Linked DNA regions of Homo sapiens: region 1 is linked to region 2. The links come from fine-mapping of genetic effects on gene expression. A gene starts in region 2. The other region holds a variant in brackets. All regions are shown on one strand. Distances are from middle to middle.

Evidence for each region. PIP is the estimated chance that this variant, and not a neighbour inherited with it, causes the effect.
Region 1: its variant is fine-mapped to the expression of NPAP1 in pancreas (GTEx, PIP above 0.99).

What each region holds. Positions count from the first base shown.
Region 1 is chr15:24,171,597-24,187,300 of GRCh38, reverse strand. All of the region lies in intron 2 of LOC105370732 (a long non-coding RNA gene), which reads left to right. It also overlaps a transcript of LOC105370733 not described here. Among named protein-coding and RNA genes, the nearest start is that of PWRN2, 9.5 kb to the right of the region's middle. The variant G/A (reference allele first, on the strand shown) is at 9,845.
Region 2 is chr15:24,668,308-24,684,011 of GRCh38, reverse strand. It overlaps NPAP1 (nuclear pore associated protein 1), which reads right to left and starts at 8,237. Exons shown (of 1, transcript NM_018958.3): 1 at 619-8,237. The coding sequence starts at 8,144. The coding sequence ends at 4,674.

The sequences.
Region 1 (15,704 bases), 500 kb after region 2:
AAAATTGTAAAGAGCTACTTGAAAAATTCACTGGCGTGGTAGCTCTCTAAAGACCTGGAAAAAAGTATTTTGAAACTTTAAACTGTAATCTTAGAAATATGAGCAATCCTTCCTGTAAACTTCCTTACAGATTCCATTCTTTCGGATGTAACATTTGTGTATCTTTTTCTTCATTCACATTTGTCCTTTTAATCACATGGCTGGTGATCGTAGAAATCACCTCATGATTAGTCACTGCAGAAGTGAATGCATAATGGTCTTTATAAGATATTTTGATCTGGCCCCTTGCTACTCTGGTCAACTCTACTTTGGGTACTTGGATATTGGAATCGGTTTCGGTATCCCCTCATGAGTACACTGAGTGATAAAAAAACTCATACAGTCACAGTTAAGGAGGTTGACTGAAATTTCACCTAGAGTTTTAGACTCCAGGAAGGTTGAATTAAGTAAACACAAAGTCATGTCATTACATATATGAGACATTCCTTCCTTGAACTCAATCTTCTTATCAGGTTAGAGTGTGGAGACAGAGCATTGGGTTTGCCTCATGATGTGGTCTAAAAATGTAGTTTGTTTGCAATAGCATCTGTTGTAGACTTGTGTCCAGACCAGCCTCTATACAACAGTTGATTTAGGATACTGTGCAAAATCATATCTTCCATGCAGTGAAAGTTTGTCTAGGGACTCAGTGCTCAGCACTTTGTCATCTGTGCCTGTGACATCATGCTATTCAAGATTTATGGAAGTCAATGGGAGTTGACATACGTAGTTCCATATATGTAGTTCCATGGCTTTGTAGGCCTTTTAGGCATGGTTCCTGAAAACAACTCTGCTGCTACTAAGAAGGGTGCAATGGCCTCTTAATAGGAAGCTGTGTGGAGAATTAGTGGGCAGCCAGTACACATGCAGAAACAAACACAGCCTGTTTCTGTCTCTCAGATCACTGCATGGAGGGTTGGAGATATGCTGTATATTGTTTTCTTTTTTTGTTTGTTTTTCACCTAATGAGATTTCTCTTTTTGTGCACAACATGTATATATCACTCAGTAGCATTCACCTGCAAAAACCCTGTTGTAAAGATTTATTCCCAGGCCTCTGGAAGCAGGGACTGCCCTAAAGCAACTTATTAGAAATATTTTTTGTACTCTGTTTACCTGCTATCTTGATGGCTTTAGGGTTGGCCAAGGGCAATATAATTCCACCATGTGAGTATCAACAGAGTGCATGGTCCTGAACAGTTCCTGATGGAGCCTGTAGAATGAAGCAAAGTAAATTAGAACAGGTTTTCTGAAAGGTTTGAAAGTAAAGTTGTCTTTGGATTACTTGAAGAAGAAATCCCTGTACCAAGAAAACGTGATCCTGAATGCAGAAATATGATTTATGTTCCCTGACACTGAAATTTCTTATTCTTGCCTTATATCATCTGGAATTCATGTCTTCCGAAAAGGTTAGTGGGATCTTGAATATACTCTGCTAAATGCTGTCCTAAAATGGGGCTTTCTGGGATATGTGAAAAACAGGCATCTTCCTTTCAAGAAGTGGATGCTGACACTCTAATGACTAGGTAGTGGGGAAGGAGAAAGAGGATAAGAGTCCTTGGAGCTTGAAGGTACCTTCCTGAAGCAGTGGCTCCTGGGTTTCAAATGTTGCCTAGAAAAGAAAAGCTAGTTTACTGTTCTCTCCCTACATGCCCACTTGTATTTGGAGGCAAAAGTTTTTTGCTGATGTCTTTACTTGCTTACTTTTTAAAAAAAAACAAAATAATAATATTAAAAAAATATTTATTTTGAAATAACTGCAGATTTACATAAATGCACATAGGTAAGTACAGACAGTTTCATATACCATTCAGATAACTAGAATGTTAGTATCTATTATAACCATAGCATATTCATGAAAACTAAGAATTTAACTGTTTTTCAAGACTATTAACTGATCTACAAACTTCCTTCATATTTTACCAGGTTTTCTAATAATGATATACTTATCTATTCCAGGACCTAATCCAGAATACCACCTTACAATTACTGTCAGGTATATTACTTACTACTTGGTGCATAACAAATTACCACATACCTTAGTGGCTCAAAACCACACACATACTACTCACAGTTTCTCTGGGTCTTCGGTCTAGATGTAGGTGATGGCTCAGGCTGAGGCTCAGCTGGGGAAGGGTCTCCTTCCAAACTCACATGATTGTTCTTAGGATTCACCTCCCTGCCCTCATCAGGAACTCATTGATGTGTTATTAAAATCACATAAAATTAATACTAATTTATCAAAAATATTTCAAAACAATACAATAATAATAAAGAAGTAGAAAATAGATCACTTCCCATTGTATACTATGAATTAGTTTACCCTGATTGAACAACTACACAAAGACATTTCAAATAAGGAAAATGAAGACCAATATGCCTTATAAATACAGAGACAAAAATCACCAGCGAGATATTATCAAATGAAATCAGCAACATGTAGAAAGTATTATACACTATGGTAAAGGGTATTTACCTCAGGAATGCAAATTTGGTTCAATATAGGATACAACTAAAGTCATACACTATATTAATAAAGAATAAAAACTACACAATCATCTCAGAAGGTATGCAACAAGCACTTGAAAATTCCCAGATTCCATATTATAAAAACATGCAGCAAATTAGGCAGATAAGAGAACTTTCTGCATTTCAAAGGGCATCTATGAAAAGCTCACATATCATCATAAGTAATCTGAAAGGTTCACTAATTTCTCTGATATTAGAAACAAGTCAAATATTTCCACTGTTGACACTAGTTTGCAACATTGTACTGGAGAATGTAGACAGGGCAATTGGCTTAGAAAAATAAATATAATGTTTCTAATATGGAAAGGAAGTCAAACTCTGACTGTTTGCAAATGACATGATCGTATGTACAAAACGTCCAAAGAATTCTAATCAAATATGTTTAGAATTTAAAGACGAGTTCAAAGAAATTTGCAGTATATAAAATATATAAAATATTTTAAATTTCTCTATACTAGCAATTAACAATCTAAAAACAAAACTCAGAAAACCGTTCCAATTGAGATCGAATCAAAAATACTTAGGAATAAGCTTATCAAATTAAGTATAAGATATGTACACTAAAAACTATATAACACATATTGAACAAAATTAATAGAAAATCTTTGAATGCTCATTGTTTACAAGGGTTAATATTGTTAGGTTGGCAATATTTTCCAAATGGATCTATAGAATTAATGCAACTTCTCTCAAAACATTCCCCTAAATTCAGAAGGTTATCCTCAAATTTATATATAATATAGATCCTGAGCAGCCAAAATACTCTTGAGAAAGACAAAAAGGGTTTGCATAGTAGACATATGCTTCCTGATTTCAAAACTTACTACAAAGTAATAGTAATCAAGATTTGTGGTACTAGTGTAGGGATATATGTATTGATCAATGGAGTAGAATATAATACTCAAAAATGAATCCTTACATTTATGGTGAAATGCTTTTATATTGTGGCCAAATAAATTAGTTATGAAGCAATATTTTCTTGTCAAATGTTTCTGGGTCAAGTGGATATCCACATGCAAGTTAGATTCTTGCCTCATACCAGAAACATAATTGACTCAAAATGACAATCTATCTAAATATAAGAGCTAAACAGAGCCAACCCATAAAAAGAAACACAGGAATACATCTTTGTGGTCTTTGGTTAAACAATGTTTTAAGATATGACACTGAAAAACACAAAGGAAAGAAGAAAATATAGAAATATTAAACTTCATTAGAATTAAAACCTTTTGCAATTTAAAGTCCACCATCAAATATAAAGAGGCACCCAAAGAATGGCAGAAAATATGTGAAAATTGCAAATTTTATAGGTGATAATGGTCTATTATCCAGAATATGCAATGTCTTACAACTCAAAATTTAAAAGGCAAATATCCCAATCAAAAATGGCAAAATCTTAAATAGCCAATTCTCAAAAGAAAGCCATAGTCATATCCAAAATCACATGAAAATATGCTCAATGTCTTTTGTCATTATGAGGTAGGAGACTGGAAGGATTTGTTTTCTGGTTTCACAACCTTGATGACCAAAATAAGATCTGCTCCAGACAGGATAAAGTGAAAAAACTGGCAGAAGCCTGTACGTTGCGGTAAATGTGATCCCTGGCAGTCTTCATTTGTCACTCACATAAGACACTCCTACCAACCACATAAGTGTTTACAAATTCCATGGCCACAACTCAGAAGTTACTGCCCTTTCCATGGAGACAACCTAGAAGTCACTGCCCCTGTCCTGCCTCAATTTGCCTTGACTTGCCCCTCAATTTGCATATAATTAAAAGTGGGTTTGATTGCATATAAATACAGTTGCCAAGAGGCCTATATGTTGCCAACTCTGAACACACTGCTTAAGAGTTAGCCCTGCTCTGCTAGGAGCAGTACCATTCAATAAAATATTGCAGTCTAACATCACCCACTAGCCCTTAAATTCTTTCTTGGACAAAGCTAATAACCCTCTCAGGATAAGCCAAAATTCTGTGACTCACCTGTCCTACAAAAATTGGGTGAAGGCAAATCTAAAAACCATGAGGTGTACTTCAAAAATCTAAAAAGCATATTGCTAAAAAATATAAGTTGGAAAAGGTAAAATACTGTGAAAAGGCAAACTTGTTACCTACTAAATAAGCTTTTAAATTTGCATAATTTAGCTACACTCTTTGTGTTACAAAGTTCTTCAGGATTTGGAAAACATTATGATGTATCCACCATTACAGTATCAAAGAGGAATTTCACTGCCCCAAAGAAATCTTCGGTAGTTCACTGATGTCACCTATATCTCTCCCAAGCCCCTTGTTACCACTGAACTCTTTACTATCACTACACTTTTTCCTTTTCTAGAGAGTCATATAAATGGAATTACACAGTATTTTGACTGTTTCAACTTCTATTTTTCTACATAGCCATATACCTTGTTCAGGTAGCATGATTAAATTAACAACATCAACTTGCTTGCAGGGAGTGCTAGATCACATACAAATGAGAATGAGTGGATCCATTTATATGGTCCTGGATTAGGTCATATGGTGTTGGAAACATTAGCAGAAAGTATAAAATTACCAAATTACCCTGAAGCAGAATTAAATTCACAGACTGGAGCATATAATAGTGACTGAACAAAAGAAAATGCCAAACAACAACAAAACCAACCAACCACACAACATCAAACTTTAATTATGCAGGTATTTCAAAGTGATAGAAGGGACAACTTAAAAACCTTCCAATAGCCAACACTGGAACAATTTGTGCAATTAAAAAAAAAATAGCAGCCGAGCATGGTGGCTCATGCCTGTAATCCCAGCACTTTGGGAGGCCGAGGAGGGTGGATCATCTGAGGTATGGAGTTTGAGACCAACCTGGCCAACATGGTGAAACTCAGTCTCTACTAAAAATACAAAACTTAGCCAGGTGTAGTGTCTCATGCCTGTAATCCCAGCCACTCAGGAGATTGAGGCACGAGAATCGCTTGAACCCAGGGGGCAGAGGTTGCAATGAGCTGAGATCGCACCATTGCACTCCAGCCTTGGCAACACAGAAAGGCTCTGTCTCAAAAAAAAAAATAGCACATATGCATTGTAAAATAAATCTCCATATTTAGATAATGATATAAATAAAAGATGCATGTTTAAGTGAATAAATTAATACACATGAAATAATTGGAAGAGAATAGGCACATGTTTACGGTGAAGGTTTAAAGGAATTTGTAGACATTCTGCCAATAATGACTGTCTACCCTTGTTGACAGTTTTTACTCTTGGTATGATATGATGAGAATGGCACTTTTTGGCCAGGCACAGTGGCTCACGCCTGTAATCCCAGACCAGCCTGGACACCACATTAAGACCCCATCTCTATAACAAAATAAATATCACTTGAGCCCATGAGTTTGACCCCGGCCTGGGCAACATGGTGAAACCTTGCCTCTACCAAAAAAAATAACAAACAACAACAACAATAAATTAGTCCAGCCTGGTGGCACATACCTGTAGTCTCAGCTACCCTGGAGGTTGAGAGGGAAGGATCCTTAAGCTCAGAAGATGGAGGCTGTAGTGAGCCAAGCTCATGACACTGCACTCCAGGCTAGGCGAGAGAGTGAGACACTGTCTCAAAATTAAATAAATAAATAAAAATGACACTTTTCCTCGTGATCTTCCTCCCCTAAACCCACAAATCCAGTCTTATCATTAGAGAAACATCAGACAAATCCCACATTAGTAATATTAATGGCATCAAAAATAAGGAAACTCTGAGAAACTGTGACAGTCAGAGAATTCTAAGGAGACATGACATGTACCTGTGATGAGGTATCCTGGATGAAATCCTGGAATAGAAACAGGACATTAAGTCAAAACTAAAAAAAAATGAATAAAGTATGAAGAGTAGTTATAGTGTTATAAAACTGATTGCTTGTGACAAATGTCCTACATTAATGTAAGAATTTCATAAAAATGGAAACTTCGTAGGATATGTGGAAATTCTATGTACTACAACTGTTCTGTAAACCTAAAACTATTCTTAAATTTATAAGGTTTCTTTATCTTTAAAGTCACTGTTGACCTTATAAAACAACATGAGCAATATGTTTGATGGCCCATAGTGCATCTCCTGAGCTTCACCATCTTCCTTAATCACTGAAAATAGCTATTACTGTGAATTATTTGTTATCCTCTAATTTGTGTTTATTACATTTACCTCTATGTTTATATTTCTAATATCTATAATGTTTATTTTTCTTGTCTTCAAACACACATGCATGGTTTTAATGTATTTATGTCCCAGTTTAATCATGAGAAATCATGAGACAAATTCATATTGTGGGAAAACCTACATAATATCTGACCTGTGTTTTCAAAAAAGTCAAGTTCACAAAAAATAAGTGAAGACTGAGAAATCTGCAGATTAGAGAATACTTGATGTGTCAGGTAGACCCTACGATGGTGCCCAGTGAACCTCACCTGTAAGAAATACACCGCTTACATTATCTCATGTGCTCTGTTGAGTGGCCTCCTCTGTGTCTCACATGACCAACACACCTGAACTTAACATTTTTCCAATTCAGAGTTTTCCTAGAAAGTGGTTGTCTTGATATGAATGTAGTGGTCACAGTTCTGCAAAGTGCCATAAGGGCATCTGACAGTATTTAAAAGTTTACAGTAATCCAACCCCAATGCCCATCAATCAATGAGTGGATAAGGAAACTGCGGTATATATATATATATAATGGACTACTATTCAACCATAAAAAGGAATGAGTTAATGGCTTTTGCAGCAACCTGGATGAGATTAGAGATTATTATTCTAAGTGAAGTAACTCAGGAATAGAACACCAAACATCGTAGGATCTCACTCATAAGTGGGAACTAAGTTATGATGCAAAGGCCTAAGAATGATACAATGGACTCTGGGAACTCAGGAGAAAAGGGTGGGAAGGGGGTGAGGGATCAAAAACTACAAATAGGGTGCAGTGTATATTGCTCGGGTGATGGGTGCACCAAAATCTCACAAATCACCACTAAAGAACTTACTCATGTAACCCAAACCACCTGTTCCCGAATAACGTATGGAAATTAAAAAAAATTACAGTAAGAAGGATGCCTGGTAAAGGACTGGACAATTAGGCATTGTGTCATCTGCAAGGATAAATAAGTATCCTATGAAAGGTGCACTGTCAACATCCAGGACCAATTTCCTGGAGTCCTGTTGGACATCGTTATAATTTGAAGCCATTGTCCCAAGAGAGACCTCAAGAGAATATCAGATACTACAAAAATACAACATAGATGTATAGGTAATTTTACAAATCATGGCTCGAAGATCCCATGGAGAAGGAAGATAGAAATGGTAAAGTGTTACTTGAAAGTTTACAGAGTTGCAGAGTGCAGCTCTCTCAAGACAGAAATACTCATCTTGAGACTGTTTGCCTTAATCTCAGAAATATAGGCAGAGACTATTCGAAGTTGCTTTCCAAATCCAGTTCTTCATTTCGATCAACTACCTATCTTTTTCTCCTCTCCTTTTATTCTTCCTATGTCATAAACGATGGTCATGTGAATCTCACTGTAAGCAGTCGCTGCTGACGCAGGCACGTTACAGTCATCATGAAATGCTTTGCTCTGACCATTTGTCACTCTTGTCAACTCCACTTGTTGATACTTGGAAAATCAAACAGGCCTTGGTGTTCCCTGAAGACTGCACTGCATGAAGAAGAAACTCATATAATTTATAATTTAGAATGTTGAGCATATTTGCACTGAGAGTTTCAGCTTCTATGAGGGCTCAGTTCAGTGAACAGAAAGCCCTAATTTCAAATATAGGAGTCATGCACCTTTTAAGCTTTATTCTCCATTCAGGGTAGAGGGTGGAGAGGGGTTGGGTTCAGGCCTCATGATGTGGTCAGACAATGAGATGTTTTCAATAGCATCTTTCTGAGAATTCTGGTGGCCAATCCAGCCTCAGTACAACGTGGTCACAGGTGGTTTACTGTCTTGTGAGAAATCATAACTTCCATGCTATGGTGGTAGAGTTTCGGAGCTCGGTGCTCAGCACTGTGTTTGTTCTCTGTGCCAGGGACATCACGGTAGCACAGTTTTGTGTCTATCACATTTCCTATCTTAACCCTGGGCACTCAGAACTCATTGACCCTCTTGCTACCTAGAGATGAGTCTCTCCTTAGACAAATCTACTTCCATCTCCTTCATGGCCTGCCACTTGGTGATTTTGTTTTTCCTGAACAGTTTGGTCATGAATGATCTTCACAGTACACATCATAACAGACCATATGTATGCATAGAAATGAAGAGAAAAATGGGATTTGACAAGTCACTTACCTTATAGAAACTCCTCTTATAATGAAATGAAAAGAGCAAACTTCCATTTACTAAGATTGTCCTTTTTTTTTTTTTTTTGAGACACAGTATTGCTCTGTCCCCCAGGCTGCAGGGCAGTGGCATGATCTCGGCTCACTGCAAGCTCCGCCTCCTGGGTTCACACCGTTCTCCTGCCTCAGCCTCCCGAGTAGCTGGGACTACAGGCACCCGCCACCATGTCTGGCTAATTTTTTGTATTTTATTAGAGACAGGGTTTCACCGTGTTAGCCAGGATGGTCTCAATCTCCTGACCTCGAGATCCACCCGCCTCGGCCTCCCAAACTGCTGGGATTACAGGCGTGAACAACCACGCCCAGTTTAAGATTATCAATTTAAATGAGGCTCTCCTTCCTATGGGGTGAATTGTAAGCTCAGAGGGGTAAGCAGGTTTATTGAATTATAAATGTCCCAAATAGTAGCACCTGAATTATTGCTACAATCTTCTTGGAAGTAAGAAATGTGGTCAAGGTCAGCTGTATCTCTTACTCCACGTCTCCTGGGTGCAGGAATTTATTTTCTCACTGGAGCTATGAAGCTGGTATGGAGAATGTAGCCCATGATCACGGTCTGAAAAAGCAAAAAGAGTCCTAACTTCATGGATGTCCTTGGGAGTGCAGCACACAGTCCCATGGCTTAGTAAGCTTTGTGGACATCGTTCCTGGAACAACCCTGGTGCCCTCCCATAAAGTGGTGTGGCCTGTGAACGGGGAGCTGTGTGGGGGATGAGGGGACAATCCTCCCTGCTGTGGAGAACTTTGTTTAAGCAGCACAGATGCAGAGTCTGCACTGAGCCTGTGTCCATCTCTTAGATCACTGCATGGTGGGCTGGGCTATGTTGTACTGTGCTCTTCTTTCCTTTTTTCTATTAGGCTATTTCCACCTCTGCACAACACACTCTGTATCACTAACATGCCTC[G/A]CTTTCATATGCCTGGTGTCTGAAGGTTCATTTCAGGTCTCTGTAAGCAGGAATCAGCCTACAACCCCATGATTAGAAGCTTTTATTTTCATAGCTAGTGAACCTTCTACACTATGATATTGTCTGTGCTGCAGCTTTTGGGCCTCTCACTGGACAAAAGAAATCCATGATATTATAGCATCAGGGGACTGTGTGGTGCCATGAATTCATGATGGAGTCTGCATAATAAAAAGAACTTAATTATCATAGGGTATTCTCAAAGGCTTTAAAAACTTTAAAACTTGAACAAGAGAATCTCTGAACTAAGAAAACACTCCTAATGTAGAAATATTATTTATGTTCCCCATCACTGGTGTTTCTCAATCTTGTCTGGAAGTCATGTCTTTCAAAATGTCTTTAGTGAGATCCTACAAAGACACTACCACAAAGTGCCTGAAAATAGGGCCTTCTAACACATGTGGGGCAGGCACCTTTCTTTGAAAAAGTGGTTACTGATGTATGAACTGGTGACTGGGTAATGGAGCATATGATGGGAAAGAAGAAAATGGATGAGAGTCCCTGGAGCTTGATGAGGTGCCTGAAGCCTGAAGCAGGTGCCCTGTGTAGGAATGGGGATAATAAGGCAAGTACTTTGCCTTTCACTCCCTGCATCTCCACTCATCCTCTGGTCCAAGGTTTCTTGTTGTTTATGTCCATCTGTGTTGGTATTTTTTTTTGTTCCTAAATAATATATTTTAAGAATATTTTTATTTGAAAATAATTTTAGTTTTACAGAAAGTTTCAAAGATAATGCAGTTTTACATAATCTACAGCTTTCTGAAATGTTAACAACTCATGTAACCAGAATGTATTTATGAAAACTCAGAAATTGACAGTGGTACAAAACTATTACCTGAAATACAGTTAATAGTTTTGAAGCATTAACTGAAAGACAGACTTTCTTAATATTTTGCCAGGTTTTCCACTGATGTCATTTTCTCTTCTAGAATCTAATTACATTTACTCTCAGGTATATTACCTACAGGTCGCTGTATAACATATAACTGAACAGCTTAGATGTTCAAACCCACACGTAACTATTACTTAACCTTTTCTCTGGATCAGATGACCCAGGCTGAGGTTTCAAGCGAAGCATCCCCTGAGGAAGGATCCCTTTCCCAGCTCATGTTAGTGTTGGTAGGATTCAATTTTTTTCTAGGTTGTGATGACTTCACTGGTGAATTATTCTAACCCCTTTGAAAATTAATAACAATCTTTATTAACTAATCTTTCAAGAAAAAAAAATAAAAACAGAGGAGTAGAGAACACTTCCCAATATGCCGCATGAAGCCCGTTTTCCCTGATAGCACAACTGGACAAAGAGATTTCAAGAAAGGAAAATTACAGACAAATATGCCCCATGAAACAGAGGCAAAAATTCTGAAGGAAATACTATCAAAATAAACCAGTAACCTAATAAAAATAGACATTATGAGCAAAGTCATTTGTCCCTGAAATATGTTTTGTTAAACATACAAAAACTATTACTGTAATACGCTATATTGTCAGAGTGAAGGACAAAAGCTTCATAATTATCTCTAAAGATACAGAATAAGCAGTTGAAAAATCCAAAACACATTCATGATAACAATGCCGAGCAAATTAGGCATAAAAGGAAATTTTCTTAAGTGATAAAAGGCATCTATGAAAAACTCACACAACAACACACCATATTATGAATGTTTCAGTAATTTCTTCAAAAAATTAGCAACAGGACAAGGATGTATGCTCTTGCTACTTTTATTAAGTATTGTATTGGAACATGTAGCCAGGGTAATTAGGCAAGAAACATAAATATAAGACTTCTAGAATGAAAAGGATGAAGTTAAGCTTTCTCTATTCATAAATGACATAATCCTATGTATAGAAAATCCTAAGGAAATTACTAAAAGAAGATTAGAAACAAAAAATGAGTTCAGTAACACTTTAGTATACTAGAGTAATAAAAATCAATTGCATTTCTATATATTGTCAATTAATCTAAAATAAAACATAGAAAACAATTCCATTTAAAATATTGTGAAAAAGAAACAGACATTTGGGGGCAAAGGGGACCAACCTAAGAAATATAAAAATAAGGAGAGATTCTTAGTTTAAATGTCAAAGTATCTGTACATAAATTCTCTTCTTTAGTTAGAAACATTCTTTCCCATGGGTGTATGAATTACCAATTCTAAAACTACTCTGCATGTATTTTGGACTCATTGATTATATAAAGGAGGCCAACTATCTCACTGTTAGCGTGGGAGGTTACATACAAGTAGTGGGAATGGGGAAACTGATTTATGTAGTCTTGAATTAGATCATGGGTGCTGGAAACATTAATAAGAATTCATGCTGAACTTTACATAGGAATAAATGGAGAAATGTTGTAGAAATGCATATACATATGTGAGTGTGAATTACATACATACATATAATCCTTTGTTCTGTCAGATGACAAAACATAGAATTAACAGACGCCTGGCAGAAATGACAACACCATTGCCGAGACCTTTGTTTCTAATGCCATTCACCAAAAAAGGAACTAGGAATTTGGGGGAAAATGGTAAATGGCATGGCTGGGAAGGGAATCAACACTATTAAGCTTAAGTACCTTGTAGAGCCAGAAAGTAAGAAAAAGTTAAACAACACAACCAAACAACACACCACACAAACCAAATCAAATAGCAATAATATGGGTATTTCAAAGTGGTAAAGCAGCTGACTGAAAGGCCTTCTAATGACCAGCACTAGCACAATTTGAACAATACAATAAACTAGTCTAATCACAGGGGAAATAAATATTTTTTATTTGCCAATATTCCATATAATATAAATAATTGACTAAATAAATGCTGGAGAAGAGATACATTGCCTATGATAATGAAATACAAACGATACTATACAAGTTCTGCCCTAAGGAGGTGAAGAATAATTCCCCAATATTAAGTATGCGCTGTGCATAGTGACGTTTTTTTCAAAAAGTACGACGTGGATAGGGGGAAAATTAATTTTACAGTGGAGAAACTGGACACACACTGCCTCATCCAGGTGCTCAAATTAGTATCAATAGTGATAAAAGCATTTTGAGAATATATGCCCATGGTATAATGAGTATTACACTCACTCCTGTCTCTTCTTCTTCCACATCTACAAATTCAGTCTAATTGTTAGTAAAAACAATCATAGAAATCCTAAATGGAGGATGTCAATGCCACGAAAAACATGGAAATTCAGAGAAACTGCAGAGACAAAAAAAGCTTAAGGAGACATGATATCTAAAGGTGTTATCCTGGAAGAGATCCTAGAACAGAAAACAAACAGTAATTAGGAAGAAAAGAAATCTGATTAATATGTGGATATCAGTGAATGAGAATGCATAATGTTGGTGTGTTAATTGTGACAAATACCCATGCTCATATAAGAGGTTAATAATGATGGAAACTCTGTGTTGGTTGCATATTAACTCTCCATGCTGACTATGCAACTGTTATGTAAGTCCAAAGCTAACGTAAAATAGAAAAGCTTTTTTTCTTTCTTTAAAAATTCACTGCTGACCTTAACAAACTGAATATTATCAATATTGTTGATGCTCTAAATGTGCAGCTCCCCAATTTCATGGCATTTTTTACCCCCATGAAGGTTACTATTATTTTCAGTTTCCTATTTGTCATTTCCTTTTTGTATTATTTTTATGTCTATGTTTATATTTCTAAATAATATATTCAGTTTTTATTGTCTTCAAATTAAGATAAAGGTGTTCAAAATAAGTCTATAATTCTATTCAAATAATGAGAAATCATCAGATGAATCCACATTGTGATGCTTCCTATAAAATACCTCACCAGTTCTTTTCTTAGCAGCTGAGAGTCTTCAAGATAAACGAAGACTGGGAAACTGTTGCACATCAGACAGGACCTGATGTGGCTGGTAGACCTTAAGATGGTGCCCAATGATCCCCACCTGCCAGGGTGCATGACCTTGTATTGTAATCCTCTCCCTGTGAGTATGGGCATGAAATGTGACTTGCTTTCACACAACACAATAATACAAGAATATTAGATGTCACACGACTGATCATGTTACGTAAAGTTGTGATTTTTTTTTTTTTTTTTGGTCTTGCTAGCAAGCTCTTTGCCTTGATGGCTTTGATAGAGCATTCTGCCACATGGGAGAAGTCAACATGGGAAGAAACTGAATGCAGCCTCTAGTCAACAGCCAGCAAGGAACTGAAGCTGCCCTACAGTTTGCAATTTAAAATTCTGGCTAATCCAAGCCCCCTTTCAAGTAACAATATATCACTTAAGATGTGGTGTGAACACCTTACAGTAACAGAATAACCCACATTCTTTCCTTCTATCACCTATTGCAGTTATTCATCTCACTTACATAAGAATAAATGCACATAAATGTTTGTATGTATACATATACACACACAATGATATATATTTAACCATATCTAATCAAATATATTCAAACTAATGTTTTTAACAAGCTGTTATTTGTTAGATTAATTAAGCATAAAATTATTACCTAGACTAGTCACTAAAAAGGTAAAAAAATAGAGATATGCTAAGAAATGAGATGAACTGATATAAAGTGCTCAAAACAACAAAAGGTAGAAAATGAGTGAAATACAAAAATAAGAACAAAGACAAATCAACAACTGAAAAATGGTAACAAATTTGGTAGATTTTTAATCCAACTATATCAATAATCACTTTAAATGTCAATGTTCTAAATGCACTACTTAAAGGACAGAATGCATCAATAAAAGGAAGCATGGGATAGAAAGAATAAATTCATGTAACACGTTACAATCTGAGAAACAAGAGAACATCATGAGGTTTGCAGGAGAATATCAAAGAACATTTAAGAAGTCACACAGACAGGCCGGGCATGGTGGCCAACACCTGTAATCCCGGCACCATGGGAGGCCGAGGAGGGCGGATCGCTTGAGGTTAGGAGTTCGAGACGAACCTGGCCAACTTGGGGAAACCCCATCTCTACTAAAAATACAAAAATTAGCTGGGCATGGTGGCACCTGCCTGTAATCCTGGCTACTCAGGAGGCTGAGGCAGGAAAATCGCTTGAACTCAGGAGGCAAAGGTTTCAGTGAGCTGAGATGGAGTCACTGCACTCCAGCCTGGGCTACGAGAGCAAACCTCCATCCCCAAAATAAAATAAAATAATAAAATAAAATAAAGACTAAAACTACCAGACAGCTTACAGGTAGGGGATTTTAAAGACACAGAGGGGAGGGGTAATACACAGTCATAAATTAATATATTGAGGTTACACATTGGTTTTAGACTAAAAGGATGAAGTATCTTGAAGTGGAAGCTTACAGGTCATAGGGGGATTCAGAGATTTTCTGATGTGTGATTATTTAAGAAAGTAAAATTTGTCAGAAAATTTGGGATCAGCAGAAAGTAATGGTACTTTTGGCTCATAGACGTAACATTCCATAGGCCACTCAGGAAGAAATTGAGAATAAAGAATGGCAGAGTTCATTTCATAGATCCCCTTTATCTGAGGTCTATGTGCCAGTGGATCCATTTAGTAGAGGGGCAGCTTTCTGAACAACAACTCAGGGACATATGCTAAGCTTTGATTTTTAGTTTCCATAGGGAACCCCATATTCCCATGACTCTCCATTCCTTGCTACTGTTTTACCTTCTTGCTTGTCCAGTGGCTCGTGTACTTCTCAGAGGTAGAGAGGTGCCTGGAATTTCTGTGAAGGGACTCAAGATTTTCCTTTATTTCCATGCTTGGGGTGGTACACAGGCCCCTATGAGGGGTCCCTGCACCTTCTCAGGCCCTAAATGAATCCTCATCT
Region 2 (15,704 bases):
TGCCTCAGGTAAAGAATGAATTGCTGTTTGGGAAGCCCTCATTGCATCACATAACCCTGGGATCACAGCAGTGACTGGTTAAGGGGGCCCTGGACAGTGTTCTCACAGTTGGGGGCAGTTTCTAGACCTCTAACATGAAGATATTTAGAGCAAGAAAGACATGCATCCATGAGTTGGAAATTCTCAAATTTTCCGCAGGCCATTTTCTAGTTCATGAGACACAGATGTAAGGAAAACACTCTGCTTATTACTAATTAGGGCTTTGGAACCACATCCTATACAAATTTTTTTATCTTATGAGATGAATGAGGACTTTGGTGAGCTCTCATGTAAGGTGTGAAGCAGTGTTTGGAATAATAGGAAACATGGACTGTCTGCATCATACCTCCCTAGAGTGCTGCCTGGAATCCAGATTCCTGGCTCTACCATAGATTCAGGAAATTAGGATGATGCAGCCAGAATTAGACATTTTTTAAAAATTATTGATTAGTGAGCATTTCTGGGCTAAACTAAAAGCAGTTTGGGTGGCTCCTTTAGGCCTCTTTCTTCTGAGACCATGTCCTTATGTTTGAAATGCTTGTTCCTCGGTGTCGTAAAGAAATAGCACTTGAACATAAATTTATTTAGTAAGGCCATTTTTACTTCCTGCAGAAAGGGTACACTTGCCAGCAGTTTTGCCACAAGAGTACACCGAACAAAGGAGACAGGGTCATTTATAACCTGACGCGTCCACCCTACTGCTGTGTCCGGTTTCCATTGGCTGGAACAGGACCTCACATTCTGTATTTGTCCCGATTGGCTAGCAATTTAGAACTTTTAAAAGAGGCAAAGGTAGAGGAGAACAAAGGAATGAGGAAGTAACTTGTGGAATGCTGAGAAAGGTAAAAACACTTCTAAATAAGGAAGAGGAACAGGCTATGACCTAATGCTTGGACCAGTATAAGCATGCCAGGGCAAATACTTAGGCTAAATTGTGGGAGCTAAGAACATAAAGTACATTGATTTCTTTATTATGACTAGCAGATATTTAAGAATGTTAGTACAGGTCTGTGAATACATTTTGCTTCTAAAAGAAGTTACTACTTATTTCTAATTAGATAGGGAGGAAAGTCTTTGAAGAGGAACCTCTACTTTACTTTTTACATTTACTTTGGTCTTACCACTCCCAAACCAGTGGAGGAGGCTCAAGGTTTCTGGAAAAGGAAGGGATTCAGTCAAGTAAACAATACTATTTGAAAATTCTAGAAACCAAAAACATTTTTTTTTTATGGGAAAAGAGTTCAAGGAGAAAAAAAGGAAGGCACTTCAAGTTTTAGGAAAAACAATGACATCTGTAAGATAACATAATAGTTGAAGTAAAAAAGCAAACTCAGAACTATGGGAGTGACATCAAAGTAGCTAAACACTATCTCTGGAGGAGGGAACTGTGGTAGGAAGGTTGACTTTCAGTATTATTTAAATTGATATTATGTTTGCTTTTTATCTTAATAAAAAATAAAAGAATATTTAGAAATAGTTTCAGTTGTGTAAGTGCATCAAAACATGAAAACAAAAATTATCTTTGTATCTCTCACACATTTATTCAAAGTTTGTCTTACCAGGATCATAATATTTAGCTTGAAGCCTTTTAAAAAATGTCAAGAAGTATGAATTTTAAAAAATTTGTCCCTGGTAATACTGCAAGGGTATAGGGCTATTAGAAGAAAACTGGATTTCCACTCTACTTCTGAAAGGCAGTTCTGATTACAAAAGTTAGGTGATTATCTGGCCAGGAAACAGGAGCTTTGATCCTCTGGAACTGTACTAAACAATTTAGAGCGAATGAATCAGGCCCCAGGGTGCCAAGAGGAATTCAGTAATTTCTCTGTGATTGTTTTCTTTCAGGCCTAATCTCATAAATGTTTTAGTCTCTGTTATCATATTTTTACATGTGTTTGCTTCATAAAAGTAAGTGCTTTTATGCTAATAAAAAGGGGTTCTTCCGAGAGGTGGAGCGTGCAGTGAGCCAAGATCACGCCACTGCACTCCAGCCTGGGTGACAGAGCAAGACTCCATCTCAAAAAAAAAAGGGGGTTCTTCTATTCTTCTATTTGAATTGCCTAATAAAGGCAATCAGGGCACCATTGCCTAAGGAACTCAGTCATTGACCATACATATATATGTATATTATCTATCTATCTATCTATCTATCTATCATCTATCTCTATCATCTATCTATGTATCTATCTATCATCTATCTATCTTTATTAGTCAGTTCTGATTGCTACAAAAAATGCCACAGACTGGTAGCTTAAACAACATTCAATTATTTTCTACAATTCTAAAGGTTAGGAAGTCCAAGATAAAGACAAATTCTGTTTCTTGTGAGGACTCTTTTCCTGGCTTACAGACTGTTACCTTGTTGGTATACCTTCACATGGCAATTAGAGAAAGCACTGGTATTTCTTCTCATAAAGGCGCAAATCCCATCATGGGGGTTTCATTTTCATGACTTCATCTAAACCTAATCACCTCCCCAAAGCCTCACCTCCTAATACCATCACACTGGAAGTTAGGCTTCAAAATATCAATTTTTGGGGGTACACAAACATTCAGTCCATAACGTTATCATCTATCTATCTATCTATCTATCATCTAATCTATCCATCCGTCTATCCATCCCTATGTATATAACAAATTACAACAAAAGCTTATAAGTCATTTCTCCATATTATTTCATTTTATCCTTTCAAAAATCTTATGAGATAAACAGGCCATAGTAAAAGTACTGATTTCATTGAGACTTTTGAAGTTTGAGTCAACTGTTATTACACAATTAGTAAAAAGTGGAGGAAGGAATTCCACTCACATCTCTCCTCTGTCCTCTTCTCTATCCCTCCCTCCCACTTGCTGACTCCATTCCAGCCACATTTCCTTACTAACTGCTCCATGAGGACACCAGGGATCCTTCCTTTGAGCCTCTGCAATGACCACTCCTATTATCTGGAAAGGTCTTTGCTCATATATCTGGCTCAACTGCTTCTCTCTAGGCTTCGTTTAAATTTACCTTCCCAGTGAGGCTTGTTCACAGTGTAAACTGAAACACCTGCTTCTATCTACAATCTCAATCCTCCATGTACTTCTTTATTTTTCATAGCATTCGTTACTGGCTAATTTACCAGATAATTTCCATGTTTTTGCTTCTTTTCTCCCCTTCAACTAGAATATAGGGTCCACAAAGTCGGGAATTTTGCCTTTCTGTCCATGACTAGAGAGAACTGGCCCAGAGGTAGGGTCAGCCAAGTTAACAGTCAAGCCAGGTTTCCTCTACCCTCCACAGTGCAGAAGACCACTAAAATACAGTGCGGTTCTGACTGGGCTCATCTGCTCCACACTCACCAATAAACACACACACACACACACAAACACACACACTCTCTCTCTCTCTGTCTGTGGTTTTGGGCCTCCAGCTTCTGTAGGAAGAGAGCAGGTTAAGTTTAACCTTGAGGGAACTGAGCCCATTCCTCCTGGAACAATGTCAATTTATGAGAACTGTATGTGCAGGGAGAGTGCTTATTTCTTAAGACCATTGATAGGAGTAAAAAATGAGTTGGTGGCTCCTATGAAGGCCTTGGCAGGTACAAGTGTCACTAGTGGCTGCTTTCCATCACAGGCACAGGTGCTCTGACCAGGACCATCCAAACACAAGTATTTAACTAACAATGCTGGCTCCTCTAGGCTGGGCATGGTGGCTCACACCTGTCATCCTAGCACTTTGGGAGGCCGAGGTGGGTGGATCACCTGAGGTCAGGAGTTTGAGACCAGCCTGGCCAATAAGGTGGAACTCTGTCTCTGCTAAAATTATAAAAAATAGCCAGGTGTGGTGGCATATGCCTGTAGTCCCAGCTACTCAGGAGGCTAAGACAGGAGAATTGCTTGAACCCAGGAGGTGGAGGTTGCAGTGAGCCGAGATTGTGCTACTACACTCCAGCCTGGGCTAAGGCTCCGTCTCAAAAACAAACAAACAAACAAACAAACAAACAAACAAACCAAAACAAAAACAATGCTGGTTCCTCTAAAGTCAAAAGGAGCACCTTGGTTGGGCAGGTCCATAGTATTTTTACTGAAAGGGAGACTAGAGGTTTCTCCCTACAAATATCTGGGGCTATCTCCTATTGCACCACCTGCATTTAGCCAGGTGGGCCTCAGGTGCTTTGTGTAAATGGGGGACCAAAAGTACAACCAGTCACAGCCGTTGTGTTGCTGTCCCTCATTGCATGGTTTGTGCTTTGTCCAGGTGGGCCCCAGGTGCTTTGCTGATACATGGGCACATGAGGGCCTTCTATCAAATGAATGTTGACACTCCTGGAAGAGGTACCATCTGTGTTTTGTCCAGGTGGGCCCTAGGTACTTTGTTGGTAGGTGGATACACAAGGGCCTCTAATTAAAGATATGTTGCCATTCACTGCAGATGCACCACCTGTGTTTTGTCCAGGTGGGACCCATGTGTACTGACAGAGAAAGGGAGCACAGGGATGTTGTTGTCCCCTCCTGGTGCACAACCTGAGTTCTGGAGAGGTACATGGCAGGTGCTTGGCATGAAGATGAAACTAGAAGCATGACCATACAAAAGGATAATGCTGGTATTTACAACCACAACTGATGTGGTGTGATCAGGTGAACCACAGGTGCTCTTACGGAAGTTGGAAACAGACATGTCTCCTAACATATGTTTCTTGTCCATAGTAGTGGGTGCTTGAAGTGTAGAATTTTCTCTCTGTCCATGTGTGCTGCAGGATGCACTGTTGAAAAGCAGGAACACAAGGGCCTCCAACTATGGATCTGGTGCCATCCCCTCCCATACCACTGCATGAATTCTGGGTAGGTGGGTCTAAACCAGGAATGTAGGCGGCAGCAGAAGTATATCCAAATACAGGAATGTTGCTAGCCCCTTGTGGTGCAGCAGCCATGCTGTGGCCAGTTGGGTCCCAGGCTGCCTGACCAAATGGGAAAACAGAAGTGGTGCTGGGTGTCCCACTCTGTCCTTGTCCAATGTTGAGTTCTCCTGATGTGGAACTGGGGCCTGGGGCAGACATGCTGAACCCAATGCTCCCACCATCCATAGGGGTTCCAGGTCCCATAATCACTTGTGGGCCTGGAATAGTATTTCCAACCAGTAAGGTACTGTCTCCAGTGCCAGGCATCCCAGTGGCAATTCTAAATCCAGAAGTCTTTGCTGTGCCATTGGGGAAAGCACTTGCATTGTGACCCTCGACTGGCTCAGCATTAACAGGTGTGCCCAATGCAGTATATGGTGATGTTAACTCTGCAAAACCTGGTGGAATTATGCTGCCACTCAGTGGCTGGACTGAAGGAGATGTTAAGCCTATAACTGGTGCTGGGGTTGCTGGATTCCCCAGAATAAAAGAACTGTCAGACTTCTGCTGCCCATCAGTGGCCCCAAGTGTGGAATGAGAGATGGATCCTGTATTTAAAGGATGGCTGGAAGTTGTGGTTGGTCTCCTATCTGCCTGTGCAGGAAAACTGGTGGAGACTTGGGCTGAGGCAATGCTGTCACTGTGTAGTGTGTTCCCAGAACCAGGAAGCCCCATATAAAATCGGATGTACTCCTCCTTCCTGGAGACAAAGGTAGACTGCAAGATGACAGTTTTGGAAGGAGGGGTGGTATTCATGTCACTGGTGTCAATGGCAGGCTTGGATAACGATGCTGCAGAGGCACTGCTCACTAAAGTGGAGGTGTCTGGAGGAACCATGATAGGAAGGCTCAGGAAATCATGGGCACTGGGGAGAGAGGTTTTCTGCTGCGGCCCATCAGGGGCCCCAAATTTGGGTTGAGGGGTGGCTCCTGGATTTAAAGGATGGTTGGAAGCTGTAGCTGGTGCCCTGACTGACTGTGCAGGCAAACTGGTGGAGCCTTGGACTGAGGCAGTGTTGCCGCTGGGTTGTGTGTTCCCAGAACCAGGAAGCCCCAGGTAAAATGGGAGGTACTTCTTGGAGACAGAGGCAGACTGCAAGATGACAGCCTTGGAAGGAGGAGTGGTATGCATAGCATTGGTTTCAATGGGAGGTTTGGATGATGATGCTGTAGAGGCACTGTTCACTAAAGTGGAGGTGTCTGGAGGAGGAATGATGGGAAGGCTCAGGAAAACACAGGCACTGGGGAGAGAAGCTTTCTGCGGCTGCCCATCAGGAGCCTCAAATTTGGGCTGAGGGGTGGCTTCTTTTCCAAAGAGTTGGTTAAAACTTGGGGTGGTATTGTGGAATATAAATGGAAGTGGGGATGTGTAGACTGATGTCTTTCCCGGGTGCCTCTGCTCTGCACTGCAATGTATTTGGGAATTTGGGAGAGAGCTCACTCTGGAGCTTAGGGAAGATGTGAAAATAACAACCTGAGATGGGGCAGTAGTATCCATATTAACTACTTCAGGGTCTACCGCAGTCTGTGAGGTTAGGTGGGCAGATGCGTTTGTTGTGACAGTGGAAATGACTGACGTGGAATTCATAGGCTTGCTGGTGATAACTGAGGTCCCGGTGGAAGGGACTGGAAGAAGAGTCAGGAAGGAAAGAGGAGGAGGGGAATCCACACACATAGATATTGGGGACTCCCTTGTGACGGGAGGCTTGAAGGAGGGTGTGGAGCTAGGAGGTGTTGGGGGGTCAGAAGTGAGAGGCGCTGCTCCTACGACTGAATTATAAGAGCCTCCTTTCTCATTAGACTGATCACCCAAAATGGGAACAAGGTCAGCAGGAAGAGCCAGAGGAGAGTTAGGGATTGTGAATGCTATTTTCTCATCCATTTTTGGTGTGGTGGAAAGTGGAGGGATAGGCAGGATGAGGGGTCCAGTAGCCAGGTCAGCCAAGTCAGGGATGGGCAAAGGAGCTGAGACCTGGGAAGTGTAAGTGGTCAGGGGCAGGGAGTCTGTGGTCTGCACAGGTTGGGAGAAAGAAGGGGCAGGCTGGGTGATGCTGCTGTTTGTCATGGTCTCTGTTTTATCCTCCAAGATTCTGCTATTCCTTTTATACTCAGGGCTCTTCTCCAAGGTGTGTAGGTCTCCCTCAACAGACAGGCAGGGGAGCTTAGCAGGTGGGGGAAGCTCACCTCGATCCCACAGCAATGGCAGTGAAGGGGGCAGCGGCAGCAGCAATGGAATCGACATTTTCCTTTTGCAGGGCCTGTTGCGGGCAGCTCTGGGAGGAGCAGCGCTCCTTGGAGGAATACAGAAAGGCTTCTCATCAGGCATCCTCTTTCCGGACATCAGCGGAATCGGCAAGCCTAGGGAGCTGGGCGGTGGCTCTTCATTCAGCACTTCCGCAGCCAACTTCTGCTGCAGCAGGGAGCAGCCAACGGCTGGCTCAGGGGGCGCTGTTGCATCCGGATCAGGCTTTCCAAGATGCCGGGCACATCCGGCCTGGCTGTGTGTGCTGGGCATGGCAGGGCCTTCCAAGCAGGAGCTCGCTGGAGACGCCTGGGCCTTCTCACTCATGCTGTTTTCTGAGAACTTGTGGTAGACATTTCCCTCCAGAGGCCCAGGGCTGCATCTGAAGGAGGCCACGTCTCCCTGGGTGCCCTGGGACCTGGATGTGGACGATGCTTCTCCGCTGCTAAGGGGGGTCCTTTTCTCGTCATCCTCCCCTTCGATCTGCACCGGATCCTCATCCTTCTTCACTCTTCTGGGCCCTTCTTGGGCCCACACCTCGGTCTCCTCCAGGAGAGTGGCTGGGATGGGCTTCCTGGCCTTGACCGCCGGCTCACGTGGTGAAGGCAGCAGGAGAGTGAACATGCGGCTGGGAGGAGGGATCCTTACGGAACTGGGGTGTCCAAACCTCGGGGGGTTCCGAGCAGGCAGCATGGGTGTCTTCCTGATGGCCAGCCCCCAACCCACAGCCGGCAGGACCCCCAGAGGGGCGGCCGCAGCCCGAGGGAGAGGACACGGCCTCTTAGGGGCGACGAAGATGCTGGCTGCTGAAGGCCTGCGACGGGCGTTCCGGCGGAACAGGCCGCGGAAAGGGCGCGGGGTGGGTACAGAGTGAGCCCGACCGGGCGGGGAGGCGTCCCGGGACAGGGGAGCGGGGGCGCCACGCCCTGGCCCTGGCAGGGGCCGGCGGCGGCACCCGGGTCTAAATTTACTAAGTAAATTGCCCATTTAGAGCTAGCCGTGCCTCCTACCGTAAAACAGGGTCAGCAGTGGACTCAACTCTCCTCAGCCACCGCCTCCTCTGGCGACCAAGCACAAACTGACTGGCTCTACGCCTGCGACGCCGCCGCGAGGTTCCTCACAGAACCAGGGAGCGCCAGCGGGGGCGCAAAAGGCAGGGGTCAGAGGGCAAAGGGCGACGCCCCGTCGGCCCCAGCTGCCCCAGGACCCCCGGAAGCCCCGCTGCCGGTGGCAGGTGTTGCACCGCGTGGCCTCTATGAGGGAACTGCTGGGGCCTGCGGGCCCATCGCCAGAGCTCTTGTCACCTGGGCGCCGGCTCTGCCTGTTCCTTAGCCCTGGCCCGGCGCTGTTGCACGCAGTGGCCCTGTGTCGGCCGTCCCCATTCCCCGGTTCACAGAGGGCACATCTGCTTCAAGTTAAGCACAGGACAACCTATATCCTGCCAGCCTCCTCTAGGACCTTGGCAGTGCTCTGTGCTGCCTGGAGCCAGGTGTGCCGTCTCTGTGGCGCCAGGGTCACCAGCCAGGCCGTGAGGGTTTCCGAGGAGGGGACGTGGTGCCTTGTCCTGACTAGATGCTACGCCCTACCACATCTCTTCCTGGCAGGCAGGGCCTCTTCACTTCTTTTCACAAATTTGTTTTAAACAACATTTAAGGCTGGGCGCGGTGGCTCACGCCTTTAATCCCAGCACTTTGGGAGGCCAAGGCGGGTGGATCACCTGAGGTCAGGAGTTCGAGACCAGCCTGACCACCATGGTGAAACCCCATCTCTACTAAAAATACAAAAATTAACTGAGCGTGGTGGCACGCACTTGTAATCCCAGCTACTAGGGAGGCTGAGGCAGGAGAATCGCTTGAAAGCGGGAGGTGGAGGTTGCAGTGAGCTGAGATCACCTCACTGCACTCCAGCCTGGGGGAACAGAGCAAAACTCTTGTCTCAAACAAAAACAAAAACAAAAAACCACAACAAACAACAGCAACAACATTTAAGCCTTAGGCTGCTTGCTCCTTGGGTCATTGATATGACAGTGGCCTAGCCAGGCTTCGAACCTGGGCTGTGTGATTCCAGAGCTGGTGCCGTGGCCTGTGTGCCTCCTTGTTATGGACACATCATGTATTCTCATTATTTCCTGTAGTCCTTAGGGTACCTAGCACACAGCACATCTGTATTAAGCACATGCGTTCCTAGGGGGAAGCCCTTACTTCACCTCATAAGTTGGTCATGGCAGGCACTGGGCTCCAGTCTCCTCTGAAGACATGGGGCAGCGACCCCCAATAGTCAGCAAAGCAGCATCCCACACTGTTCTTCTAATTGAGCCTTGCAGCCCAGATTTCCTTTTTGGTCTAGTTTGAAGGATCTAAATATGTAAAGATTATAGTCCAGATCCATTTTGGCCTATCCCGAAAGAAATTCACCAGTGGATTAATCCAAATGGATAAGCCAGTTCTCTGGCCTTCTTGGAATATGTTAGAAAGCAAATTCATCATGTATTTGCAAGTCAGTAGTGGAGCAATGTATTCGATTAAAATATGATCAATACAATTTGGTCATTGTCCGCATGCCAGCAAGGCCCACTCTTTACCACACATTACTGTCACCTAAGTATAACTATCCATATTCTTATGCCCAAGGAAGGAGACTTAATATTGGTTTTTAGGACAAAGGAAATATGTGTTACTGTTTTAAGAGCTGGAAGTTTCAGCATGACAAGAAAGATTTGGAAAATCCTACACATGACCTTATCTAGTTTTAATCTTGTTTCTTTGGTTTATTTAACTGGACTGCTTTGCTCTCTTTGGGCTAATGTTGTGTGCCAGACATAGGACATGTGGAAGGTTCAGAACCAAGAATCAGAGATCAGTAAAAATATTTTAATGTATTTTTTAGTTTAAAAATCGATTTAAAATAACATCAAACCTAGTTAACATACTACAAAATCCTTTTTATCCCCCTGTTCATATATTTTATACTATGTCAGAGTAAATGTGGGCTTCCATACCCAACAAAGCTTATGTTTCTAGGACACAAAGTTTTGCTCAGACCCAAATTCTGTTTAAAAAGAGGAGACATATTATAAGTCCTTCCTAACCTCTCAGGGAACCGAGAAATTGTTTACAATTATGGCATTTAACTGTAATCTCTTGATATCATTTGAGGAGAGTTTAATAAAAAATAATCTCTTGATTTTATTTGTTTAAACAAAAAGAACAATCTGGTACAAGTTTTGGACAAAGATTTCCTACAAGAACTCTGAAACAAAATCAAATGTCAGGCTTATTTGAAAACAATAAATTACAGCATTTTCCCCCAAACAGGAAAAATGCATTAAACAAATAATGAATATTGGGGCTTCAGGACAATAAAAGGAAATTTGGACAAGGGTATTCCAGAAAAATCCACCTCTTTATTTTTCTTGTCAAATGGGAATAGATGCTTTTTTTGAATATAAAATCTTCCTTGTGTTTGTGAGGCAAAATAACATTAGATGGCAACTGATTATTCTGAGATCTTTTGACTTGGCAGACGCAAACATGTTGAGATGAAATTTGTCAAGGCAAAATATTTTCCAAAAATTTAATTTAATAATTATATAAATACTGTGATAATAGCAACAATTTATAGTTGCCAGGTGAGATTACTTGTAATTTAATAATTTTTTAAAGCACCAATCTCCAGTCATATCAAATGAATCTCTGGGTGGCTAGCTTTGTATAGAATTGTGGTAGTGACAATAAACCATACCTAGCACCCTATAGTTGAACACTTTCACCAACAACCCACTGTAAGTCATACAGAGTTAATGTGAGGACACACTGAATCCTTTGGACTTTATTGACTCATGAACCTCATTAAATGAACTTTTTTCCCTAAAATAATTTCAGTCTCCTCTCTCGTGAAGAAAAGTTATCTGAAAAAGGAATGTGGAGGAAAGAGACTTTATTCCAGTGAACTGTTTGCATCCTCTGTTGCAAAACAAAGGTGCATTCCAGAAAACAAAGGGAAGACTTGGGTTTTATAGCAAAAGTTCGCTGTCCAGGTTCCCACATAAGTTTCTTTAGGCAAATGAAGGTTTGAAACTGGCTTAGTTCTGGCCCACTGTGGTGGCTCACATCTGTAATCCCAGCAGTTTGGGAAGCCCAGGTGAATGGATCACTTGAGATCAGGAGTTTGAGACCAGCCGGGGCAACACAGTGAAACCCTGTCTCTACTAAAACTACAAAAATAAATAAATAAATAAATAAATTGGCTGGGTGTGGTGGTGCACACCTGTAATCCCAGCTACTTCACTGGGTGAGGCGGCAGAGGTTGCAGTGAGCCAAGATCATGCCAATGCACTCCAGCCTGGGTGACAGAGTGAGACTCTGTCTCAAAAAAAAAAAAAAAAAAAAAAAAAAAGAAAAAGAGAAAGAAAGACATTGGCTTAGTTCCAATTGGCCAGTGCAGGTATAAACTCTAGTCAGCAAATGGCTGCTGGGCTGTATTTTAAATTTACGCCCAGTTAGCCACACAGGATTGATTTAGAAGAATTGGCTCTTTCAGATTCACATTTGTCCACACTCTTCCGCCCTTTACTGTAACCAGGGCTCAGCAAGGACAGACAGACTTTGTGCTGCTACTTCTTAGAGTAGCCTTTCCTTGGTTGTTTCATCTATTTCCTCTCCAGTTAACTTTTTGCTTTTCAGAAATGTATCAACACCTTTCTGTGGTTGATGACTTCCACAATCTCTTGGCTTTCGTTGGTCTACTACATTTTGGTATTTGTATACTTTTATTTAAGTACAATTTCAGGAGGAACACAAAGTAAATATGTGTTCCTGGTCTGTCACCTTGAACTGAAAGTTCCTGTTCATTCTAGAAGCCAACCTTCCCATAGGAGAAAACTACCCTTAGTATTAACAGATGTAGCATTCAAGACTTTAATTTTTCTTGAGGAATCAATCACTAAGGATTTAGGATATGGTAATTTCTGTATGGGGAAATAGTACCTATCCCATGGAGTTGATTGGAAGATTAAATTACATAATCGATATAGAAATGCTTTGTAAAATTTTAATTTCTGTGAAAATGCTTTTTTGTTGCTATATAAATTTTATGATTTTTTTTATGTAAGACCGTGTTTTTTGGTTAACTGTTTTGAAAACCAAACTGCATTTTTCATTAGCTCAATGGAAATGAATGGCATTGTTTTTGAGGGTGGGGATGAAGCCATAGATATTTCTCGATATCTATTACTTCACAATATTTTCAGCAACTAATTTACTCATGTATTCCTCTTTCCAATTTTATTGAGGACCTACTTCCTCAAGAAAAGTCAGATGCTTTATTTCAGGTTTTGGCAAACATTTTCTAGGTTTTAAATATTTAAGTCTTTGTGGGCCAAATGCAGTTTCTTTAGCTCCTCTTCCTCCTCCTCTTTTACCTCCTCCCTTTTATTCTTCAGGAACACTTTTAAAATGTAATCATCATTATTCGCTCACAGGACATACAAAATGATCTGTGGGTCATTTTTGGCTAACCCCTGATCTATGTCTTTACTGAGTAGAAGGCACATCTTTGAGTAAATCGCTTGTTTGAATCAACCAATCTTTTTTTTTTTTTTTCTTTTTTGAGATGGAGTCTTGCTCTGTCATCCAGGCTAGAGTGCAGTGGCGCGATCTCGGCTTACTGCAACCTTCGCCTCCTGGATTCGATTCTCCTGCCTCAGCCTCCTGAGTAGCTGGGATTACAGGCACCTGCCACCATGCCCAGCTAATTTTTGTATTTTTAGTAGAGATGGGGCTTCACCATCTTGGCCAGGCTGGTTCCAACTCCTGACCTCAATGATCCACCCACCTTGGGCTCCCAAAGTGCTGGGATTACAGGTGTGAGCCAACGTGCCCAGCCTGGTCTCCCCAATCTTGTCCTTAATTTCCTACAGTCTCTAATCAAAATGATCTCCAAGAGAGATCCTGTTGAAACGTAAGTCAGATAATATCACCCAAGCCTCTTCAATGGCTTACTCAAAGCAAAAGCCAAAGTACTCAAAATGCTTCCAAAACCCTAGCAATCTGAGCTCTCCATTTCCTTTCTGACTTCATTTCCTTCTTTCCACTCTGATCCCTCTTTCCCCTACACAGTGACATCATCCTTTCTGTTACCTGAATACTATATGAACACTTTTGCCCATGGCTGTCCCATCTGACTGTTTTCTTTACCATTTCTTTTCTAACACTCATTTTCCAGACATACACATCATTGTTTCCTAGGATCCCATTATGTTTCTTCTTAAATTTCACCTTCCACATAATTTCACATTGCAACCCCCACACCAACTGACACTCTTCAACTCCCTTCCCTGCATTATATTTCTTTCTAGGACATATCTGATATACTGTTTATTTTACCTATTTATTTAAATTTAATTTACATGTGTACACTTATGTTTATGTATTTGCATATTCATTTGTTTACTCCCCCCCACCCAAATAGAAGGTAGGAATATTTACTTTTTCTTTTTCGCTAATATTCCTTGAATATACCTGTAAACCAGTACCTGACATTTAGTAGGGTATCAATAATTTTCTTGAATGAATTAAGGTGTGGGTTGATTAGTGAATTAATCCCTAGGGTTTCTGAATTGAAGATTTGTGTGAAGAGGAAGGCAGCATGGCTGGGACAGGGTACTGTGAGAAGCAGTATTTGGAGTTCTCTGATGTGTATCTTAATATATAGATTTTTGTTCATTTAAATAATTTTAACAGGGTAGTTGGGAACTAGTTTAGGGAGACACATCACAAAATTTTTGTAGTGGATTATGTAGGGTTCTTTTAAAGTATGTGTAAGTATTAAAATATATGCATGTGTATACACCTCTATTAATTTATTGAACGCTTTACAAGAGCCCTTTGAAGTAGCAAGTATCAGTATTCTTCATTTACAGATGAGCTTAACTTGCTCAAGGTTGTATCATAATTTAGTTATAAATGTAAAACTAAACTTTGAGTTTTTGAGCAGATCCTCCCTAGAAAGCTGTGACTTATTAATAAGATTCTGGTAACCCACAGAGATTTATTCAGCTTCCAACAATGTACAAACTACAGACTCAGTTATGGGTCATTCATTTTAATAAAGGGAAAAAGATTTATCCAGCACAAAACATAGAGAATATTAAATGTTATTCTCTATTAAGATAAGTAATGGGAATAGTAGGCTCCAGTCTTTCTAAAATAGCTGGAGACCATCATATCTGCATTATGGCCATGGGGATGTTCAGCCAGGCTGCCTTTCTCTGTCACTCAGAAGAATTCTGATATTATATAATTATACTTATTGAAACAGATAAGGGACATTGGGCAATTAAGATTTCTTCAGCTTGATTTTTCCAGAAGGCTTGCCTGTAAAATGAAGATAGTTGGTCTGAACACATTCAGGTATGTAGAGGTTGTTAGGATCTTACTTTTGGCAGTGAATAAAGTGAGCTTATTTTATCTCTGCAGCCTCCCATATACCTATGTCCAGCCTCTGTTTTGTGTTTGGAAATAACCAAGTATAAATTAAAAATCAAGGTAACTAAAACAAATTATTTATTGATGTATATAAGCATGCAGAACTAAATGTGATCTAGTTTAAATATTTATTTAGTGTTGTATGTTTGGGAGGAGCCTTCAAGGTATCAGAAAATGAAATTTAACTATCCTGTTGTAAACTACAGTACACACACACATTGAATTACCAGTTCTGCTCACCTATAGAATCATCTTCAGGTGCTACACATTCCTATGTACCTGGTATGTATCATTTAGCTTTCACAATTTTTCAATTACTTCTTAATACTCAGTATTCCAATTTCAATCTTGCCAGGACCTGCACCAGTTATGTAGAAGACAAGAATTTTATTTTCTGTTTATTTATCTGTGTTCAGAACCCAATGAAAGAACAATAAAGTGGGATTGAGGATATCTAGGTTCTTGTTCCAGATCTATCAAAAAATAATTGTGTCCCCTTGAGAAAGTCATAGTCATTTTGGGGTCCCTTTACTTCTCTTTGTTTTGACAGAGTCCTACTTGACTCAAAAAATACTTGATTCTTCGTAGTAGTCGTTTTTATGTCATTGGTATTGTAGTAGTTGTTTATATGTCATTGGTATTCTAAAACAAATAAAGACAATTACATATGAAGCTGTGTAGCATCTCTTTAACTATGTCTTTAGAGCTTCCTCCATTTTATAGAAGATAAAATGGCAGAGATAGAGCAGAAGTGGATGGTTCGACTGGGGGTCCAAAATAGATGGAACTAAAACATATTTCCTTCATTTCTTGAGCTCATTTAGCTAACACATAGCCTGTTGTATATTAAATTGCATTTTAAAGGTGGGCTATTCTTACAGGTCTTCCAACAAATAGCAGAACATATTGAAATTCTTAAAAGATCACCTAACCTTGTGAGATTTACAGCTGTATTTTCATGTAAAGCAAGTTGTATAAATGCCAAGTAATCACCTGAACTTCTAGATACTTCTCAGAACTAAAGTTCTGAACCTCTTGAGGTTTGCTTCTTGCTATCTGAAGT